2 separate regions of the Homo sapiens genome follow, and region 1 is linked to region 2. Evidence: fine-mapped expression QTL. A gene starts in region 2. The other region holds a variant in brackets. All regions are shown on one strand. Distances are between the middles of the regions.

Region 1 (5,382 bases), 65 kb after region 2:
TTTGTATACAAGTATTTGTTCGAGTCCCTGTTTTCAATTCTTTTGGGTATAAACATAGTGGAACTTCTGGGTCTTATAGTAATTCTACGTGAAAATATTTGAGGAACCCATAAACAAATGTTTCTACAGCAGCTGAACCATTCATTTTACATACCAAGAGCATTGTCGGGGGATTCCAATTTCTCCACATCCTCACTAACACCATAATTTTCTATTCCTTTGATAGTAACCATCCCAAAGGGTATAAAGTGGTATTTTATTGTGGGTTTGATTTGCATTCCCTAATGGCTAGTTATCTTGAGCATCTTTTCATGCCCTTGTTAGCCATTTGTATATCTTCTTTGGAGAACTCTCTATTCAGGTATTTCCCCATTTTTAAATTGAGTTGTTTGTGTTTTTGTTGTTAGTTATGTGTAGTCATATATTCTGGATATTAGACCCTTATGAGATATATCATTGGTGGATACTTTCTCCCATTCTGTAGGTTGTCTTTTCACTTTCTTTGTAATATCCTTCAGTGTACAAACCTTTTTAATTTTGATGAAATCTAATTTATCTATTTTGTTACTTGTGCTTTTGGTGTCATCACCAAGAATCCATTGTGCAAGCACACTAGCTTTCATGTCTCTTCTTATGAGTAACTAATTCTATTGGATAAGGGCCCCACCTTTATGATCTTCTTAAACCTTAATTACCTCCTTATAGATCTTATCTCCAATACAGTGACATTGGGGTTTGGGGTTACATATATGAATTTTGTGGAGATATAATTTGGTCAACAGACTTCTGTACCCCTGCAATTCATGTCCTTATTGAATACAAAATACATTCATACCACTTCAACAGTCTCAAAAGCATCAACTCTAAAATCTGAAGTCCGAAGTCTCTTCTAAATATCACCTAAAACAGATAAGGGTGAGACTTGAGATATGATTCATCCTGATGCAAATTTTCTCCCCAGCTATGAAACTGTAAAACCAGGGAAGTTGTTTGCTTCCAAAATACAATGGCAGAACAGGCATAGAATAGGCATTCCAAACAAACAAACAAACAAAAATAGGAGCAAGAAAGGAAGGAAATAAAAGAAATAGGCAAAAAGGAAGGGATGACAGGTCCCAAGCAAGTCCAAAAATCTAGCAAGGCAAATTCTAGTAGATTTTAAGGCTCAAGAATAATCCATTTTGATTCAGTGCCCTGCCTTCCAGACCTACAAGGGTGGTGGCCCTGCCTTCTGGACCCTAGGTGGATGCTATACCTCTCCCCACACTCTGCCAGGCATGCTCTTCCAGGCAGAGTCTCATCCCAAAAGTTTTGCTAGGTAATGGCCTTGATAACATCTGAATTGCTTTGAGGTCATTCTCCCCTTTTCTTAAAGAATAGCACAAGTTTGGCCAGGTGCGGTGGCTCACGCCTGTACTCCCAACACTTTGGGAGGCCAAGGTGGGCAGATCACGAGGTCAGGAGTTTGAGACCAGCCTGGACAACATAGTGAAACCCCATCTCTACTAAATATACAAAAATTAGCCTGGCCTGGTGGTGCATGCCTATAATCTCAGCTACTTGGGAGGCTGAGGAAGGAGAATCACTTGAACCTGGGAGGTGAAAGTTGCAGTGAGCTGAGATCCCGCCATTGCACTCTAGCCTGGGCAATGGAGTGAGAATCTGTCTCAAAAAAAAAAAAAAAAAGGAATAGTACAAAGTTAGCAGCTGGATAGCTCTATTGTCCTGTCCTGTAGAATCTAGGACATGTAAAAGCCTTCTGTCATTTTTGTCTTGTCTGCATCCCCTTCAGTTGAAACAGGCAGTGTTTCTGCTCATATAATCTCATCATTTATTTATCAAATGATAGTCTAACCATACCTTTGGTGTTTTCTTTAGAATGTACTTTCTCATTTTCTGCAACATGACAGGCAGATAATTTTCCAAATATTTGAGTCTTGGTTCCTTTTTGCTTAATAATTTCTTCTTTCATTCATCTCTTCTTGCATTTTACTATAAGCATTCAGGAAGATCCAGGTCGCACTTTCAGCATTTTGCTTAAAAATCTCAGTTAAATATTCAATTTTATCATTCACAAATTCTGTCTGCCAGAAAACACTAGAAAACAAGTCAGCCAAGTTATTTGCTACTTTATAACAAGGACTGCCTTTCTTCTGTCTTCCAGTGACCCATTCTTCATTTCCATCTGAGACCTCACAAGAATGGCCTTTAACAAACATATATTTACCAAAATTGTGTTCATGATTATGTTTTCTCTAAGAAGATGGAGGCTTTCTCTTCAACTGTATTTCTGAGTTCTTACCAGAATTGCCTTTAACATCCATATTTCTAGCATGGAAATCTAGGCTTTTTCTAGCATGCACCTCAGAATTCTTTCAGCCTCTACCCATTACCTAGTTCCAAAACCACTTTCACATGTTTAGGTTTTATTAAAGCAACATGCAACTTCTTGGTAGCAAAATCTATCTTAGTTTGCTCAAGCCGCCATAACAAAATACCATAAACTGAATGGCCTAAGCGACAGAAATTTATTTCTCATAGTTCTAGAGGCTGTGCAGTCCAAGATCAAGGTGCTTGCCAATTTGGTTTCTGGTGAGGGCTCTTTTACTGGCGAGTAGATAGCCACCTTCTTTCTGCATTCTCATATGATAAAGGAAG[C/T]GGGAGAAGGAAAGGGAAACAGACAGAGAAACACACAGAGAAAGATATCTGGTCGTTTTTGTTGTTTTTTTTTTTTATAAAGATACTAATCTATAGCATCAGAACTCCACTCTTGTGATCAATTTAACCTCAGTTACCTTCTTATATAGGTCCCATCTCCAAATACAGTGACACTGGGGGTTTGAGCTTCAATATGTGAATTTTGAGGGGACATATTTAGTTCTTAGCAAATGCTATTATAAATGAAATTGTTTTTAATTTTCCAGATTGGTGATTGCTGATGTATAGAAACACAATTGATTTTGGGGTATTCTCTTAGTCTATTTTCTGCTGCTGTAACAGAATACTACAGACTGGGTAACATATAATAAACAGAAGTTTATTGGCTCACGGTTCTGGATGCTGAAGATTCTAAGATTGAAGGGCTAGCATCTGGTGAGAGCCTACTTGGTATGTATGTTATCCCATGGTGGAAGGACAAAGAGAGGGCTAGAGAGCAAGGGATCAAACTTGAAGCCTCAAGTTCTTTTACAATTGGCATTAATCTATTCATGAGGGTGAGACCTCATGACCTAAACAACTTACATTAGGCCTTACCACCCAACATTGTTGCATTATGGGTTAAGTTTCTAGCACGTCCTTTGGGGGGATATATTCAAACCATAGCAAGTGTTGGCCTTGTACTCTGAACATTTACTTATTAGCTCTATTAATTTTGTATGTGTGCCTACATGTGTATATTCTTTAGGATTTCTATATATAGAATCATGTAATCTGTGAACTGAGATAGTTATACTTTTTTTCTCCCAATTTGAACACTTTCATTTCTTTTCCTTGGTTAATTGCTCTGACCAGAGCCATCCCTTCATTTTAAATATTTTGCTCACGTGATTATGGAAGCTGGCAAGTCTGAAATCTGTTGGGCAGCTGAGTAGGCTGGAATCTCAGGCAAGAGTTGATGCTGCAGTCTTGAGGCAGAATTTCTTTTTCTCTGAGTAATCTCAGATTTTGCTCTTACAGCCTTCAGCTAATTGAATAAGTTCCACCCACATTATCAAGATTAGTCTCCTTTACCTAAAGTCAACTGATTATAGATATTAAATGTATCTTCAAAATACCTTCACAGCAAGACCTAGATTAATGTTTGATTGTGTACTGTAGCCTAGAAAAATTGACATGTAAAATTAACCATCACATTCAATGTGGTAGATAGTAGTGTTAGTTCACAGGATTTTAAAACATTTTTATTTCTCACTCTCCTTCCCATGGCTTCAGTGTGGGCACAGTATACTTCCTCATGGTGATTTTGCATGTGGCTATGTGACTCATTTTGGCCATTGGAATATGAACAGATCCACTAGCAGTTGAGGATAACTAGATGGGGTCTTAGAGAGAAGCAGAAGACATGTGTGTTCTGAATCCTCTGACTGTGTGTGTGTGTGTGTATGTGTGTGTGTGTGTGTGTGTGTGTGTGTGTGTGTGTTTGTAAGCAATGATACAGAGTCCAATTTGAAAGAGCTCCTACTGGCAAAAGAAGGGACACTTGGAGCATCAAGGAGAATCAGAAAGATTTTTTTGACTGAAGTAGTTTGAAATATATCAAAAATTTCAAAATACATAAATTTCAATGCTTTTATTAAACCTCTCACTGGTCACATTGAGGATTGCTAGGGCACTAACTCATTATTCTGAAATTGCTTTTAAAAAGTTTTTAAACCAAATTTTTTGCTTTCCTACACAAACTGAAATTCAGAGTAACCAAAGAGTTGATAGGGGAAAACTTTATTTTTTATTTATTTATTTTTTTGAGACGTAGTTTCACTCTTGTTGCCCAGGCTGGAGTGCGGTGGTGCAATCTCGGCTCACTGCAAACTCTACCTCCTGGGTTTAAGTATTCCCCTGCCTCAGCCCCCTGAGTAGCTGGGATTACAGGCATGCACCACTACGCCCAGCTAATTTTGTATTTTTAGTAGAGACAGGGTTTCACCATGTTGTCCAGGCTGGTCTTGAACTCCTGACCTCAGACGATTAACCCGCCTCAGCCTCCCAAAGTGCTGAGATTACAGGCGTGAGCCACTGCGCCCAGTCTGGGAAAATTTTTTAATAGAAGAATTCCAGTGAATAAATAAAAAAGTGATAGAATATCACCATTTTGCAACCTGTGAGAAAATAATACTTCTAGGGAATAATTACTAATGGTTACCAAATAACCAAATGGGTAGAAGGTTGAAAGGAAACTTAATAGTGATCCACTTTATGTATGTGCTATTTATGTGCTATGTACTATACTATATAAATAGTACTTTATAGTATTACTGTTTATGAAATTTTTTTTTTACAAAATCCTAAATCTGAATTTAATCAAGCCTCTAGATCTAACTGCCAGTTTACTTGAAAAAAAGAGGCACAGAGTAACATGTTAAGTGATCTTTCAGTGACCAACAGTGGTGGTGGAGGAGACCCACCCAAGTCTGGCTGTGTTGGGTACTTGTGATGCAAATAACTCATGAGGAGCCTTGCTTTCCTCCTCTGGTGCTGTCAGGGCTGTTACCTTGAGCTCCCCCTACGTTAGTGGGTCCTCGATTTTAGAGTTGAAAGCTTGGCTGCCTGGCTGTGCTCTGAAAGAAATTATTTTCTTATGAGTATCACTCTGTTCCTCCTTCCCTAATGCTCGCCACTCTGGTACCATTGCTACTGATGTCACAGCTTCTTTTCTGGCTCAAG
Region 2 (5,382 bases):
CTTTCTGCTTTCAAAACAGTCTTTAAATTTTTGGAATGCTATTCATTTGTAATTTAATGATCAATTTGAAGACATTATCAAATTGTCATTGTCATCAGCTCCTGAGGTTTGATCTTTGAGGTCTGATCTTTACTGCCATCATCAACTACTATCACTTCAGAGATTATAAGATTATAATCAAAGATTATCAAAGATTATAAGGGCTGTGCTGAAAGGACAAAGTAGTCAACCTGAATGGGCTCTCAGTGGCCTATGATGCAAGAATCTGATCGTCCTCCCACTTCCCCCCTGCCAAAAAAAATTACTGCAATGGATCAAACCATGAAAAATACTGTAAATCATAAATTTGCAATGATACTAAAGACAAAAACTGGGTAAGATGCAGGAAGGATCTCATTTCAAAAATTTGCCTTTTGCGTTTTATATGTATGAAAGGTATTTTAGGGTAAATGAATAGCTGAGGATGAGATTTCTTTCATTACAAAACTCTAGGTAATAAATGAAGGATACAATGAGAATATTTCACTTTGCAACCCGCAATGAAATAAAGCATTTAGGTAATGATCCTCAATGACTACTAAAACCATTAGGCTGATGACAAACTTTATAAACTGGTGGGTCTGGCTGGCAACATTTGAAACCACAGATCCATCTTAACACCAGAGACAAATGGCCATTACATGACTCCTGATGAGACACAAGAGAAAGGAAGAAGCATCACTCACAATTTTTTCTTGATTAAAAAACACATCGAGTATGTATGTGATCAGGTCTCTCCATCCTAACTACCAGTTTATAGAAAATTTGAGATAGAAGATGTTAAAAGGCATTAAGGGGATGCAATCAAAGAAATCCAAATTGTGAGAAGTTCTACAGGACAAATGATCATATTAAAGACAAGGAAAAAGGCCGGGCGCGGTGGCTCATGTCTGTAATCCCAGAAGTTTGGGAGGCCGAGGAGGGTGGATCACCTGAGTTCAGGAGTTCGAGACCAGCCTGGCCAACATGGCGAAACCCCATCTCTATTAAAAGTACAAAAATTAACCGGGAGTGGTGGTAGGCGCCTGTAATCCCAGCTACTCAGGAGGCTGAGGCAGGAGAATTGCTTGAGGGCAGAGGTTGCAGTGAGCCAAGATCACACCACTGCACTCCAGCCTGGGTGACAAGAGCCAGACTCCGTCTCAAAAAAAAAAAAAAAAAAAAAAGACAAGGAAAAGAAAAAAAGGGGGAGGAGAAACTGTCAACTGATTAAGAGACTCAAGACATCAACAGAGTACAATGTGTGGCACTTGTTTGGATCCTGATTGGAACAAACAGACATATATACTGAGACATATATGAGACAAGTGAGGGCAAGTGAACTGAGGGGGCATTTGAAATCACAGAATAAATTTAAATCTGTGACCACTTTATTGTGGTATTTTAAAAAGAAGGACCTTATCTGTTAGAAATAAATGCTGAGGATTTAAAGATAAAATGTCTTCGAGTTGTTTTAAAATAATTCAGAAAGGAGGTGAGACTGTGAGTAATGGAGAGTGGATACATATGAAGACAGGATGAGGTTTTGAAAAATTATTTTTTTAATGATTTCTTGCTCTGGCATTTAAAAAACCTAAGTTTCACTAGTTGTGCAACATTTGAGTACACGAGCTCATTTCTCCAACATGTTTCCTCACCAGTAAAATAATGCTAATGATAACATATATGTCACAGTGTTAAAGATTTAATAACTCCTATTAAACCAAGTGCAACACAACATATAGTAAGTACTACAATCAATAAATGGTAGCTCTTATCACTTCAAGCTAGTGGGAACAAATACCGTCAGTACAATCCCATAAAATCTGTGCAAAAGACCCAAAGTAAGGCAGCTTCAATCTAAGAATGTGTGAATCCACTCCCCGCCCGCACCCCGCCAAAAATCAATCAATCAATCAATCAATCCTGGTTTGCTCAAAAACTTGAAAAAACAAAAAAGCCCTAAACCCTGAAATCTCTACTAGTTAGGGCAAGAGAGGACTCCTCTCTCACCCAGATACTATCAACAAAGAAGTAAGGATGCATTACATTTTATCTAAACTGTAAATTTATACAACCTCTGGAAAGATGGCAGAGTGGCCTTCCTGGCAGTGCTGTCTAGGTGGCTAATCTGAATGTCAAGGAAGCTGAAATCCTCTCCACTTACTAACTAGAGGGCAGGCTCATTCCAAGGTGTGCGGGAGAGAGTTCGCCAATTTTCTACCACTTAACAATCAGCAAGTGTTTACAATGTTTTTGTGTTTCGAGAGCAAGGGCAAAGACAATCGAGTTTGCATTCTATCGTCCTGCCTTGTTTAGGGGCAGTATATTTAGGGTGCTTAATTCTGGGACACAATGCGACCCCGGACAAGGCGCCTGAGGCCTGTCTCTCTCGCTCACCCTGCGTCCCTAGTGGGTCTCATCGATCCACGCATTTATTCCCATTTGTAACAGATGGCTGCCGTCAAGGCTCCGTCACCCCTATTTGCTTAACCACATCAGCCAAGGGAGCAGGCTAGGGAGCACACCCCTTCTGGGGGCTCGAGACCTCCCTGGGTGGAGCAGAACTGCAGCGGCTGCAGGTCCCGGAGAGTCTGGGAGAGGTCGAGGTTGACAGAGGAGGTGGGTAGGGGGCGCGGGCGCCAGGGGCGATGGAAGCGGCGATGATGCCAGGCCGGGTGGGTGCGCTCCAGTGTGAAAAAACTTACAAGTCTCTGAGCACACAAAGAGATAAGATTCCAAGGGAAAATTAAAGAACCGAAGAAAAGGAGAGTGAAACTCCAGGAAACTCCGAGGTCAGGAATTTGGGGGAATCTAGGGGAAAAGGGACTTCTCCGAGAACTGGTAGCGCGGAGGAGGGGACGCCTGAGGAGCCGCAGTCTCCAGGAGAGCGGTAAGCCCCGGCCTGCGCGGGTTCCCATCCCTGTTCTCACCAGTACGAGGGCTGCGGCCGCCAGCGCCGCGCCGAGCACCGCCAGCTGCAACAGAAGCGGAGCCATTCTCCATGCCGTGGCAGCCCGCCCAATCCCGCACCTCCACACAGGCGGAAGCGCGCCCGCGCGACCCGGCCCCGCCGCCAGAGAGGTCGCGCCCGCTGGCCGCAGCGCCCCCGCGTGGCGAGGCGGAGAAAACGCCGCTCTCGTGCCCTCGGCGCCCAGTCGGTGGAGAGGAGCGCTAGGTTCCACAGCGGGGCGCCAGGTTTATCAAGTATGCAAGACGTCTACTTAATTTGAATTTCAGATTAAAAAACTAATCATGTTTTTAACAGCCTTATTAAGATAGCCACATACCATACGACTCATCCAGTTACAGGTTTCTGGTTTATTACATTAGTTTTTATAAACTGTGGTAAAATAAAAAGTTGCCATTTTAATCATTTTAAGTTTACAATAGTGAGTGGCATTAATTACATACATACTGTGCAACCATCACCACTATCTATCTGTAAAGCCTTCCCAGCTCCCTCCAGGTTCTGGCAACAACTAATTGCATGCTCTATTTGGGGCATACTCATGCTTTAAAAAAAAAAAAACCCACAAAAAAACAAAAACAAAAAACAAAAAAACCACGCTGTGTTTATCAGACATTCAAATTTAACGTGGTATCCTGTATTTTATCTGGTAACCCCACCTAGGAGGGAGATGGCAGCCTTGAGCACGACACAGTCTACAACACAAGGTGATGCTTAGGAGCCCTCAGCTCCGGGACCTGCAGAGCAGAACGTGGTGCGGACAATGAGCGCACAGAAAGTTCAGGTTTCTCGGCCGAGCGCCGTGGCTCACGCCTGTAATCCCAGCACTTTGGGAGGACGAGGCGGGCGGATCACAAGGTCAGGAGATCGAGACCATCCTGGCTAACACGGTGAAACCCCGTCTGTACTAAAAATACAAAAAATTAGCGGGGCGCGGTGGCGGGCGTCTGTAGTTCCAGCTACTCGGGAGGCTGAGGCAGGAGAATGGCGTGAACCCGGGAGGCGGAGCTTGCAGTGAGCCGAGATCGCGCCACTGCACTCCAGCCTGGACGACAGAGCGAGACTCTGTCTCAAAAAAAAAAAAAAAAAAAGTTCAGGTTTCTCATGTGTTGGAGCACGGAGCCCTTGACCAGTGAAGAGGCAAGGCCAGGGCTGAGCCTAAGTCACAGGCAGAAAAAAGACGCAGAAACATTGGAATAACGCTCCACACGCACTGCTTGATTCTGCGCTAGAAACCCTGTTATCTCCGAACTGTTGGTGTTATTCTGAGTCACAGCACCAGCTCTTTTATAAAGAGGGAGACCCGCTCCTTCTTTAACAGCAGATTCGTCAAAATACGTCCAAGGCAAGGAAACCTAGAAAGGCGTCTGGGCAGGGGAAAGTCGATGCGAGGGCGGGCCAGGGACCTTTCGTCGCGTCCCCACCTTGGCATTTCCCGTGGCGTGAGCGGCCCCGGCATCCGTGTCGAAAGTGCGGCGGCGGAACAGGCGCGCAGGAGAGGAGCGGCGCAGGCGCAGACGCGCGGGCGGGAAGATGGCGGCTGGGTTCAAGTGAGTGTTGGCGGGTGGCGGGTAGAGTTCTGTACCCTGGCGGACGGCAGCTTCCTTTAACTCTTAGCTGGGATTCTCTCACCTGGAGGCCGACCCCGTTGGGGTGCCATTTCCTTCCTCGTCGAGGCAGACGATGGGCGGGAGGACCTGGAGGTTGTCACAGTGAAAAGAAAGGGCTTCTTCCTCAGTGAGACGGGAGATGAAAGGACTCTGTAGAGTTCCATACCCGCTGCGAGCGCTCGTGAGCGTGGTGTGTAGTGAACGTGCAGTCCCAGGAGACATAGTTGTAATCTTTTAAAGATTGTGGCCGGGCGCGGCGGTTCACGCCTGTAATCCCAGCACTTTGGAGGACGAGGCGGGCGGATCACCTGACGTCAGGAGTTCGAGACCAGCCTGGTGTACATGGTGAAACACTGTCTCTAATAAAAATATAAAAATTAGCCGGGCGTGGTGGCGGGCGCCTGTAGTCCCAGCTACTCAGGAGGCTGAGGCAGGAGAATCGCTTGAACCCGGGAGGCAGAGGTTGTAGTGAGCCGAGATCGCGCCACTGCACTCCAGCCTGGGCGACAGAGTGAGACTCTGTCAGAATCAATCAATCAAGATTGTTGCATCAGAACCACATACCGCCTGCTTCTCCCTCTCCCGTAATTTATTTCTAAAAGGATCATGCCTCGTTTGGAAGGTTTTTGTGTGTGTGAAGCCAGTGGACTTTCTTAAAGTTTTTAAAAAATGGATAAAATAAATAGGATTCCAAAGGAAATCCATTATGTTGAAATAGTTATCTATGAGTATAAACTCCGAAGACACGATATAGTAGTATATATACTTGGTTTAAAATTAACC

What was found. PIP is the estimated chance that this variant, and not a neighbour inherited with it, causes the effect.
Region 1: its variant is fine-mapped to the expression of ALG5 in whole blood (TOPMed, PIP 0.98).

The regions. Positions count from the first base shown.
Region 1 is chr13:37,060,894-37,066,275 of GRCh38, forward strand. No RefSeq gene overlaps it. Among named protein-coding and RNA genes, the nearest start is that of SUPT20H, 3.9 kb to the left of the region's middle. The variant C/T (reference allele first, on the strand shown) is at 2,659.
Region 2 is chr13:36,996,284-37,001,665 of GRCh38, forward strand. It overlaps ALG5 (ALG5 dolichyl-phosphate beta-glucosyltransferase), which reads right to left and starts at 3,057. Exons shown (of 10, transcript NM_013338.5): 1 at 2,952-3,057. The coding sequence starts at 3,017. EXOSC8 (exosome component 8) reads left to right here and starts at 4,503. Exons shown (of 11, transcript NM_181503.3): 1 at 4,503-4,539. The coding sequence starts at 4,523. RefSeq lists a silencer at 2,973-3,272 and enhancers at 3,733-3,782, 4,243-4,332, 4,533-4,792, 5,013-5,072.